Linked DNA regions of Homo sapiens: region 1 is linked to region 2. Evidence: fine-mapped expression QTL. A gene starts in region 2. The other region holds a variant in brackets. All regions are shown on one strand. Distances are between the middles of the regions.

Evidence for each region. PIP is the estimated chance that this variant, and not a neighbour inherited with it, causes the effect. A credible set is the group of variants that fine-mapping cannot tell apart.
Region 1: its variant is the best candidate, but not a certain one, in a credible set for the expression of LINC03052 in whole blood (TOPMed, PIP 0.65).

Annotation. Positions count from the first base shown.
Region 1 is chr2:95,845,994-95,851,375 of GRCh38, reverse strand. It overlaps ANKRD36C (ankyrin repeat domain 36C), which reads left to right. Exons shown (of 88, transcript NM_001393982.1): 87 at 181-210; 88 at 810-1,828. The coding sequence ends at 204. Among named protein-coding and RNA genes, the nearest start is that of LINC00342, 22 kb to the right of the region's middle. The variant T/A (reference allele first, on the strand shown) is at 2,514.
Region 2 is chr2:95,524,069-95,529,450 of GRCh38, reverse strand. It overlaps LINC03052 (long intergenic non-protein coding RNA 3052), which reads left to right and starts at 2,697. Exons shown (of 1, transcript NR_182300.1): 1 at 2,697-4,578. It also overlaps the pseudogene ANKRD33BP1. RefSeq lists an enhancer at 2,158-2,287 and a silencer at 2,428-2,717.

The DNA.
Region 1 (5,382 bases), 320 kb before region 2:
GCAGTTGTGGTGTCATGTCCGTGCTCAAAAAGTTTCAGATTGTAGAGCATTTTGGATTTCAGATTTTTAGATTAGGGATGATCAATCTACAGTACAGATGCTCCTTGACTTACAGTGGGTTTACATGATAATGTCTCTTGTTTGACTGAAACATTATAAGTAATATTTGATTTATTTCAGATGCTGCAGGTGTTTGAGAGCTAGATGAAGGTATGTTGCCAAAATTTATGAATTAAATTCCAATCATTGATTTCTGAAATAAACTCTAAGTAGTGAACGGTATTCCCTCTCAATTGCTTGGTTAATAAATGCTACATTAAATATTTTTTCTTACACACATCTAGTGAAAGATGTGAAAACATAAACATTCATAGTGAAGGGTAATACTTATGCTTTGTTAATTCATCATGTTCCATAGCTTTAAAAAATCGCAAGAAGTCTGTGTATCCCTTTTTTTCTGGCCCTACACTTTTCTTCTGCCACCCCTATAGAACTATCAGCCTGCAAACTGAAACTGTTCTCACAAAACAAAGGCATCGTCAACTTCTCAAGGTTAAGGTAGTGATTTAAGGCTAACAGACCCCACACTCGTGATAATAATTAGTTAAGCAATTACAGGTCACAAGCAGTCACTTGACCAGTGACATTTTAAATCTCTAGTCATTGACTTTGTCATTGGTTTACTTTTGCCCGTGGGAAAAGTTGAAAATTCCTTAGCATGGAATCAAAACTCTCACATCAGTGTGGTTCTTGTCAAGTTATTCAGCCTTATCTTTCGCCACTTACCATACTCTGCACCTTTGTTCTAGCATCCAGCCAAACTAGACTACATGGAGCTCCACAGTGATCGTCTTCACCTCCAGCTGTTTGCATTTACTTCTTCCCTCTATCCTACATGTGTTTTCCTTCCCCTTCAGATATCAACCTATGAATTGCCTCTACCAAAAAGCCTACAATATTGACACAAACCTGGGCTAGTATCCCTTCTATGTCTTCCAATAAGTGCTGTCTTATGCCTGTCATTGTATGTATGACTCTGTACGGGAATTGCCTGTTTGTTTTTTCAGATTATAGCATACAGTTGTTGAGGGGTGGACTGTATCATCTTTATCTTGTAATTCCAGTGCTTGTCCTAGTACCTTAGCACATGGTTGCTGAATACATGAATGAAGAGTGAGAAACCAGAAGCTCTGATACTTAACTGCCATGATAATGAATTCAGTGTGCAACTATGGGCAAATTATATTTAATAGTAATTGCATATTGTACATATTTTTCATTCTTATTAACACTGATAAACTTTTCAACATATACTGACTTTCTCTTAGTTAACTGTGAAATCATTTAGATAAAGAATATAATTCTTTTTCATTGTAACTTCTGAATTTAAATCTGAATCCTCTATAGCAGGGGTCCCCAACCCCCAGGTCACAGACAGGTCCATGACCTGTTAGGAACCAGGCTGCACAGCAGGAGGTGAGTGGCAGGCAAGCGAGTGAAGCTTCATCTGTATTTCCAGCCACTGCCCGTTGCTCACATTATCACCTGAGCTCTGCCTCCTGTCAGATCAGCAAAGCCATTAGATTCTCACAGGAGTGAAAATCCTATTGTGAACTGCACGTTCAAGGGATCTAGGTCACATGCTCCTTATGAGACTCTAATGCCTGATGATATGTCATTGTCTCCTTTCTCTTCACGATGGGACCATCTAGTTACAGAAAAACAAGCTCAGGACTCCCATTGATTCTCCATTATGATGAGTTGTGTAATTATTTCATTATGTATTACAATGTAGTAATAATAGGAATAAAGTGCACAATAGATGTAATACGCTTGAATCACCATCCTGAAACCATCCCCCAAACCCCCATCTGTGGAAAAATTATCTTTCACAAAACTGCTGCCTGGTGCCAAAAAGGCTGGGGACTGCTGCTCTATAGCTTCTGCACTAGAATCTACTAATGAGTAAAATCTAAATCAATACCTAGTTTTAAAAGCATAACAAGAATATGTGCTGTCTGGCTGCAGTGGCTCATGCCTGTATTCTCAGCACTTTGGGAGGCCAGTGCAGGTGGACCACTTGAGGTCAGGAGTTCAAGACCAGCCTGGCCAATATGGTGAAATCCTGTCTCTACTAAAAACACAAAAATTAGCTGGGTGTGGTGGTGCATGCCTGTAGTCTCAGCTACTCGGGAAGCTGAGGTGGGAGAATCACTTGAACCCGGGAGGCAGAGGTTTCAGTGAGCCAAGATCATGCCACTGCACTCCAGCCTGAGCAACAGAGTGACTCCATCTCAAATGCAAAACAAAACAGAAAGAATACGTGCTGACAAAAAAAATCTAAAAGACAATAAAATTGTATTACTAGGCTGTTAACATGATATTTTGTTTCCCATTAAATGTGTGACATGCAAAAGTATTTATTAAATGAAAATATTTTTGTATCTTTTATGTCTGATGAAAATTTATATCATGTTTTAAATGATGTTTCTTGGCCTCTTTAACTTTTTTTT[T/A]TTATTATTATTATTTTTGAGACGGAGTCTGGCTCTGTCACCCAGGCTGGAGTGCAGTGGCGAGATCTTGGCTCACTGCAAGCTCCGCCTTCTGGGTTCATGCGGTTCTCCTGCCTCAGCCTCCCGAGTAGCTGTGACTACAGGTTCCCAGCTAGTTTTTTTTTGTATTTTTAGTAGAGATGGGGTTTCTCCCTGTTAGCCAGGATGGTCTCCATCTCCTGACCTTGTGATCTGCCCGCCTCGGCCACCCAAAGTGCTGGGATTACAGGTGTGAGCCACTGCGCCAAGCCTGAAAATCTTACTACCTAAATAACTTCCCACTCCACTCACACCCACAATCTTTCTATAATCCACATTCTCTCCTGAGACAAGAGCTTGGGAAGTTCCGTCTTTCTGAGAGAACTTTATATTGTTCAGGAATTCTTTAATAAGCTTTTACACCGTTGGGGAAACCAGGGAAAAGCAGGTTTGTCACTGCTTTGCTGAGGAGCAGACTCACATGCTTTGGAAGAATTTAGTAAACCTTCAATAGATGGCCTAAGATACTAACAGGGGCCATCTCATTAAGCTACACAGTTATTTATAAATGAAAGTATAATCTAGAACTTACATGTCAAAGTCTTCCACTACAAAGATGGCAATATTTGACTAAAACTGCAATGTTTGTCCCAGTTAACAAAACTCTAATCAAGCCCCTGCCCTTCTCATTCTGTTTTTCCTTTTAAACTTTTTTTATATTTTAATTTTTCATTTGACAAATGCATATTTCCTCTTTATACCATGCTTCCAAGTGTCACTCTGATACATACCTTCAATGACCAGACACAGGATTGTGGAGTTTGTTGTGGACACTCATCCCATGAATAGGGAGACTCCGATAACCTGAACAGAAAGCTCTGAAAAGAAAGGAAACTTTCTTTTCCGTCCATACAGAGCTTCCCCCCATTATTTCAGTGTACACAAACCAACATCAGTTCTTTAACACAAAAATAAAAATACTCAAGATCAAGCAATTGTGAGGGAAATCATCTTTCCAGAAGTCAATTCTTCTAGCGGTTACCTTCAGCATATACTACATGAATGAAAAGAAGTTGGTCAAACGAGTAAAACTTTCCCACCTCATTCCATTTCTGTCTACCCATTGACAACACCTTCGGTCTTCTCACAAATATTGAGTAGAAACACTGCCAACTCTTCACCTTTATCTGGCTCATTCCCAGAGCCAGGAGAAGATGTGATTTATTTGGTGGATGGGAAATCTTATCCATTGGTCCCATCAAATCCATTGGTCCACGTTTGCCTATTAGTAAGGCAAACTTACTCAGTGATCAATGAGTACATCTAGTCTCTCTTTCTCCTCTGGATTCTGAACAGGAGAAGTGGAAGGCAGGTGAAGACCCTCCCTGCACTGGGTGGGTAACTGACTGTTCTTCAGATGAACTTTTTTTTGTTCAGGTTCTAAAGTCAAGGCTAGGGGGCAATATTAGAAGTCTTTTTTGGTCAACATTAAGCCATAGTTTCTAAATCAGCTTTAGGAGGAATAATGTATTTGGATATTGATCTGACCTCTTGTTTTTATTTCTAAGTTTGTTTGGCACTGAAAAAGGAGAGGTTTGTTATCAATCCACACCCCTAATGCCCTGACATCCATGAATCCGTTTTAGTGGAATCCAGATCTCTAAGAAAGAGATATAAAATATTTGTTCCTATCCAACTGTGATTAATATATTTCCAACTATGTTGCTGTCTGTAAGTAGAGTCTGCATACGTGTTTCTGGTTCATATATGCCTAGGGTTCCAGAGCATTACATTTCCATCAAAATGTAGATCCCAAGAATGCCAGAGAGGGTCAGGCCGAGGATAGAACAGACAGTGATTTTCAGATACTGCAGTAGGAAGGTGGATCCACCTCTTGGCTTACTTGTAACCATGAAGTGTGGGAAAGTAATGACCAGATTGAGTAAATGACCAGAAATTCAAAACTAAGCCACAAGAAATTTGTCTATTTCTGCTTTTGTTGACTGCTATCAGGGTTACATCAAAAACAGTATTGCTGAGACCAGTGTTGTGGAGCTTTAACTCTATGTTTTCTTCTAGTAATTTTACAGTTCAGGCCTTCTATTTAAATCTTCATTTGGAGTTGATATTAGTATATGGTGTAAGTTAAGGGACTAACTTTATTTTTCCTGTGGATATTCAGTTTTCTCAACACCATTTGTAGAACAGACTATCCTTTAACCATTGTATGTCCTTGGCACCTTTGTCAAAGATAAGTTGACTGTGTGTGGGTTTATTTCTGGGTTTTCCATTTTGTTTAGCCAGTTTGTCCATTTATATGCCACTACCATGCTATTTGGATTACAATTGTTTTACAATATGTAATAAAATTAGGTAGCAGGCTGTCTCTAGCTTTGTTCTTTTTGCTCAAGATTATTTTGTCTATTTTAGGTCTGTTCAATACAAATGTCAAGATTTTTTTCCATTTCTGTAAAAGAATGGCATTGGAATTTTGATAGTGATTGCATCAAATATGTTGCTTTTGGTATTTTGTTCATTATCACAATATTAATTCATCCCATCCACAAGCATGAATTTTTTTTTTTCATTTACTTGTGTTTTTAAATTTTTGTTCATTGGTGTTTTATAGTTTTTCATATACAGGACTTTTAATTTTTTGCTTAAATTTACACCTAAGTATTTAATTTCTGTTGCTATCGTACTTGGGATTTTTTAAAAATTTCTTCAGGTAGTTTGTTATTTGTATACAGAAACACTTCTGATCTTTGTTAGATTATTTTGTATCCTGAAACCTTATTGAATTCATGCATCAGTTCTAACAGTTTTTGGTGGAATATTTAGGGTTTTCTGT
Region 2 (5,382 bases):
GAGCATCACTGGACAAGCCCTGTGCTGGCCCCAGGGTACTCTGTGCACCTGGGTAAGGCTGGAACACACTGGGGACAGGGACCCAACATACTCACTCCGCAAGAGCGTGGGACCTGGGGAAATCGCCAGTTGTTTGCTGTCCTGCCATTGCCGTTCTACACATCCCTGGAGACTATGAGCATGGGTTGTGGTGCCGTAGTGGCTGGGCAGTATCAGAAATGTCCATTTTTCACCTGGAAGCAGCAGACACCCAAGGCTCAGGGTAGAAGTGGGGGCTCCATACCATTCCCAGTGCCAACTTCCCATGGCAGAAACAGGAAGGAATGTCTGGCAACCCACCAAGGGTCAGACGCCACATCAGCCTGAGCAGAAGCTGCCTGACACTGGCTGTTCCAATGACAATTAGACGTTCTTGGGAAGGTGGCGCCCTTTGTGGGAGCTCAGGATGGGTGTCCTGGAAGTGCCACTTAAATGGCACTGAGGCCTCTCAAAATCCCTGTGTTAGAGCTGCAGCTCTCCATGTGGGCTGCAGTGCAGTCACCTATGGAGCTTTAGGACAGGCCCAAGGCTCAGTTCCCTGGGCCAGTGCCTCAATAACTTTCGCAGTTCGGCTTGGAGAAGCGAGCCTGGGAGACCACGTGGCACTGCCTGGCTGGGTCCTGGGCTGACAGAGGTGAGCGTGGGGCTTGTGGTGACTTGGTAATGCTGTGAATTATGTACGTGTGGCAGGAAGGTGCCACAGTGCTAAGGCCCCGCATCTTGGAAATTCCATAGGGTCCACATGAGGATGAACTAAACACCAAATGCAGTCCTCAAAGGAATAATAAAACAAATACCCACATAAGGGAATCTCTGGAACTGAGTCTGGAAGAGGGGGCTGCCTGGTCCACTCCAGGAGAATTTGCCTAAAACAAGTTTGCTTCTCATTGCATTCTCTTTGCTTCTTCTAAACATCACCTCCTCTAGAGGTTACATTACACCCCATTCCTGTAATTTACATCATTCTGGGCTCCTTACTCTTGTTGCATCCTTTTTTACATTTTAAGGATGCCTAGATTCGATTTACTTAAGAGCATATACGGCTTAATTTTATATTTCTGGTAATCATTTATTACATTTCCCCCATTTTATCAAATGACACATTTTTCTCATGTCTATTTTAATATGTTAAAGATTTTTGTATACAGTTTATCTAAAACTCCTTGCTTAAAATGAGTTTAATTCTAGCAATACAGACATGCCTATCTCTGCATTGTTTTATAATTTGACGATAAATGTTTTTCCTCAATATATGACTGTATTGGATAATACTTTTTAAAAAGATACAATAAAATCTGATCTCTCTGTCTCACTTGATCATGTGGCTGAACCAGTCAATCCCTCCATCAAATAGAAATATCCGGCATCACTTAATCTAATTAATAAAAACATCCACCCATGATGAGAAGACCAAAGCAAACAGCCCAAAAAGGAGAGAATCCCATGATTTCTGTGTAAAGTCCTACAGATATCATAAATATTTATTGCTGGAAACAGTGTTTTAAATAAAAGGTCTTCAGGTAAGTGTATAAAAACTTCCTTGGATACAAGGGACCCTATCACTTGTAAAACTTGGCAAATTGGACAACAATTAAAAATACAAAATTACACAGAAAATATCCTTTAATAAATTGATTTTTTTTTAATTGAGACGGAGTTTGGCTCTTGTTGCCTAGGCTGAAGTGCAATGGCGCCATCTTGGCTCCCTGCCACCTCTGCCTCCAGGGTTCAAGCGATTCTCCTGCCTCAGCCTCCCGAGTAGTTGGGATTACAGGCATGTGCCACCACGCCCGGCTAATTTTGTATTTTTAGTAGAGATGGGGTTTCTCCATGTTGGTCAGGCTAGTCTCAAACTCCTAACCTCAGGTGATCCGCCCGCCTCGGCCTCCCAAAGTGCTGGGATTACAGGCGTGAGCCACCGCGCCTGGCCTAATAAATTAATCTTTAAAAAAATCTTAATTGAGGTTCTCTAAAGGGAGCCTTTTAGGGAACATGCCCCCTAGGTGTACTGATTGCTAGGGTGGCTGGTGTGAAGCGAATCGATGTGGCTCCCCCAGCCCCTTTCTGGGAGCATCCTAGAGAGACAGCGTGGAAACGCGCGCTGCCCGGTGGTCCCGAGAGCTGCCATGGTGCCCAGCCCCGCGGCCTCACCCAGCCCTCAAACCCCGTGCCAAGCACCCGCGGACTCTCACGTCCTCTTCTTCCAGGGCGGCGGGCGCTTCTCCTGCACCTTGGCCTGGCGCCTCTTCTCGGCCTCCTCCGCCTCCCGTTTCTCCTCCTTGGCCACCTTGTAAGGCCACTTGGGTATCCGCAGGTGGCCGCTGCCTTTATGCTGCCCTTCCGCGCCGGCCTTTTGGGTTGGAAGGTGGGCGCGGGCACCTTGCTGAGGCGGACCTGGGCACCACCACGCTGGGCCCCAAGCTGCTCTGCTGCAGGCACTGCAGGGGCAGGAGGCTGGCCGTCCGCGGGGCGGGGGCGGCGGAGCCCCAGGACCCCGGCAGCCGGGCAGGTGGGAGGCCGGCTCTTGGGGAGGCCTTTGTGGAGCCAGCGGCCGCTAGGCCGAGCGGCTTATGCTACTCTGCGCCCTCCTCTTCGCCCGCCTCCTGCGCCTGCCTCCCCCCACCCCTCGCCGCGCCGCCGGAATTTCCTGCGCCGCCAGGATTTCCTGCACCGCCAGCCGCCTCTTCCCCCAGCACAAGGTGCTCTCGGGGCACATAGTCTGGCACGCGAGGGCCCCGGCGGGGCTGTTAGAGGCTCGTGGTCATCCTGACCATGTGGTCCAGGGCGCCCCGGTCCTCTGGGCCCCGCATGGAGCGCGGCGTCAGCGCGGACAGCTCGCAGTCCCTGAGCCTCTGCAGGCAGTTCTTGGAGCCCTCGGGCTTTTGCGGCCTCTCGGGGAGCGGCGGCAGCTCAAGCTGGTACTTTTTCCCCAACAGCTCCCGGCAGGGGCGCTCCAGGAGCCTCTGCATGAGGCGGACGTATAAGTGGCCACTCCTCTGGCGACATCCCACGGCGGGGGCCCTCGCGTGGACACCCGCCCCTGCTAGCTCAGGGCTCCGATGCGATCCGTTCGACCCTGCATGGCGGCTTTCAACCCGAACGCGTCCCTCCTTCAAGATCAAGACCCTGAACGTAGTTCAACAAGTAGTTGGTGATGATAGCGTGCCCTGACTGGGCCAGGATAGCCTCTTTAGTAAAACAGCCACGAAAGTCATGAAACAGATGCTCAGCTCCTTTCTTCATTTTCACTTTAATTCGGTGATGCCTCTGTGTCTGTCTGACGACATCTCTCCTGGGGTCTGTGATTCTGCTGATGGTCTTCAGTGCCTACTGAGAAGGGTTCCTGGACATCATCAGGTATGAAAACCTCAAAGCTCTCGGTCCTCAACGTGAGAACCCTGGGCCAGCGGCATCAGCCTCACCAGGAAACCTGTTCTTCTGCTCATTCTTGGGCCCCACCCCAGGCCTATTCAAAGAAAGACTCCAGGGGCAGGGCCTGGCAGCCTGTGTTTCCACCAGATCTGTGTTAAAGCTCAAATGAACCAGCCCACGTGATGCTGACCAGGAAGCACAAGGCTGAGAGCCAGTGTCCAAGGCAACGGTGCCCATGGGGCCAGAGGCAGCTCCTGCCTGTGCAGCTGTATTTAGGGCTGCGTTCCCCTCCCTGTCCTGCCAGTTGACGTCAGTGTGGGGTTACTCAGCTAAGGCCACCACGGTATATCCACAAAGCCGTGGTAGCAGGCGACATTAAGGCTGGTCCAGCCATTGTGGTCAGTCTCCTGCGCCTTCTCAACGCTCACCCCTCGCCGCACCAGCGTCCGCAGCAGCCCCATGCCTCCTGGACGCCCTCCTCCGGGACGCTCTCCAAGCCCTCGACGCCGTGCTCCTCCTCGTCCTGGAAAGGGTACAGAGTCGTCCCAGGCTATGCTGCAGGTGTGGGGCCCTGGAACTCTTTGTAGTCAGCGCGGTCCTCCTCGACCTGTGCGCCTAGGAGTGGGGACGGCGGTGGCGGGGTCATGCAGCGCTCCCAGCCACCCTGCGGCCGGGTCCCAGCCAGCAGCACCATGCCAGCGGCCGGAGGCGTGGGCTGGGGGCCGGGGCACCGTCCCGGAAAACCGGGCGCGCCCCAAGGTCCCTGCTTCTCGCTTCCGCGTCCCCAGAGAAGCCGTAGCTCCCGCCCCCAGCCCGGCAGAAACCTCCTTTCTTTACATTATTAAGTTTGTTTTCATTTTAATTTTCTTAGGACATTGATAAAATCACTTTCGGATTTTTGAGATTAAAAATTAAATAATTTTCATCTTTACCCTTTTTAAATTTTTCACACTTTATTTTAATGCTTTTATTCTTTTGTAAATTTTAATTATTGTAATTTATATCTTCAATTATTATGGAAGAATTTTAGAAAAGTCTTTTCACATAATAAAGACTAATTAATGAACTATTATTTATTCTCTCCTCTATCTCAAATACGGACTTTAAACTTTTAGAACACTTTTTGTTTTGAGACTCTTGTTACTTATGTGACATTTTAACTATTCACTCTTCTAGTGAATTTTTAATGTCATTCAAAGGGTACATCTTTCTACACTGAGAATTAAACAAAGTTCTCAAAAATATTCTCAGATAATTTAGAATTTCACCTTCCACTGGCATGTTAAGTATGTTCTCCTTCCCTTCTAATGCATATTTTCCTCACACGTCCTCATGTTATACTCCTTATTCACCCTCCATGCAAGAGGTGATTTTATTTATTTATTTATTTATTGAGACAGAGTCTCAGTCTGTCACCGAGGCTAGAGTGCAGTGGCATGATCTCGGTTCACTGCTATCTTTGCCTCCTTGGTTCAAGTGATTATCCTGCCTCAGCCTCCATAGTAGCTGGGATTGCAGGTGTGCACCACCATGCCCCGCTAATTTTTGTATTTTAGGTAAAGACAAAGTTTTACCATGTTGAACAGGCCAGTCTTGAACTCTTGACCTAAAGTGATCCACCTGCCTTGGCCTCCAAAAATGCTGAGATTACAAAAACAGCAACTAAACGCTGGAATGATGACTGGGAACTTGTCTAGAGTCTCCAGTGATTATCCTCCTTATAACAAGGCAGAAAGCCTTCCTCAGAATTATCTGGACTGACATCACTCATTGTCCAGACCTGTTAACAGCAACAAGTGCTGTGAGTCTCAAATGTGCTCCTTCAATAATGCAGTAGAAGGCCTGAGTTTCCACATAATAGTATCCTTGAATGCCTGGAGACTTAAGGCACAAGAATGTATTGATCCTATGAACTTTATGTTTTGTAAAATTTCAGATTATGTGAGGTGTTTGGACAAATTAAGTTTCAGG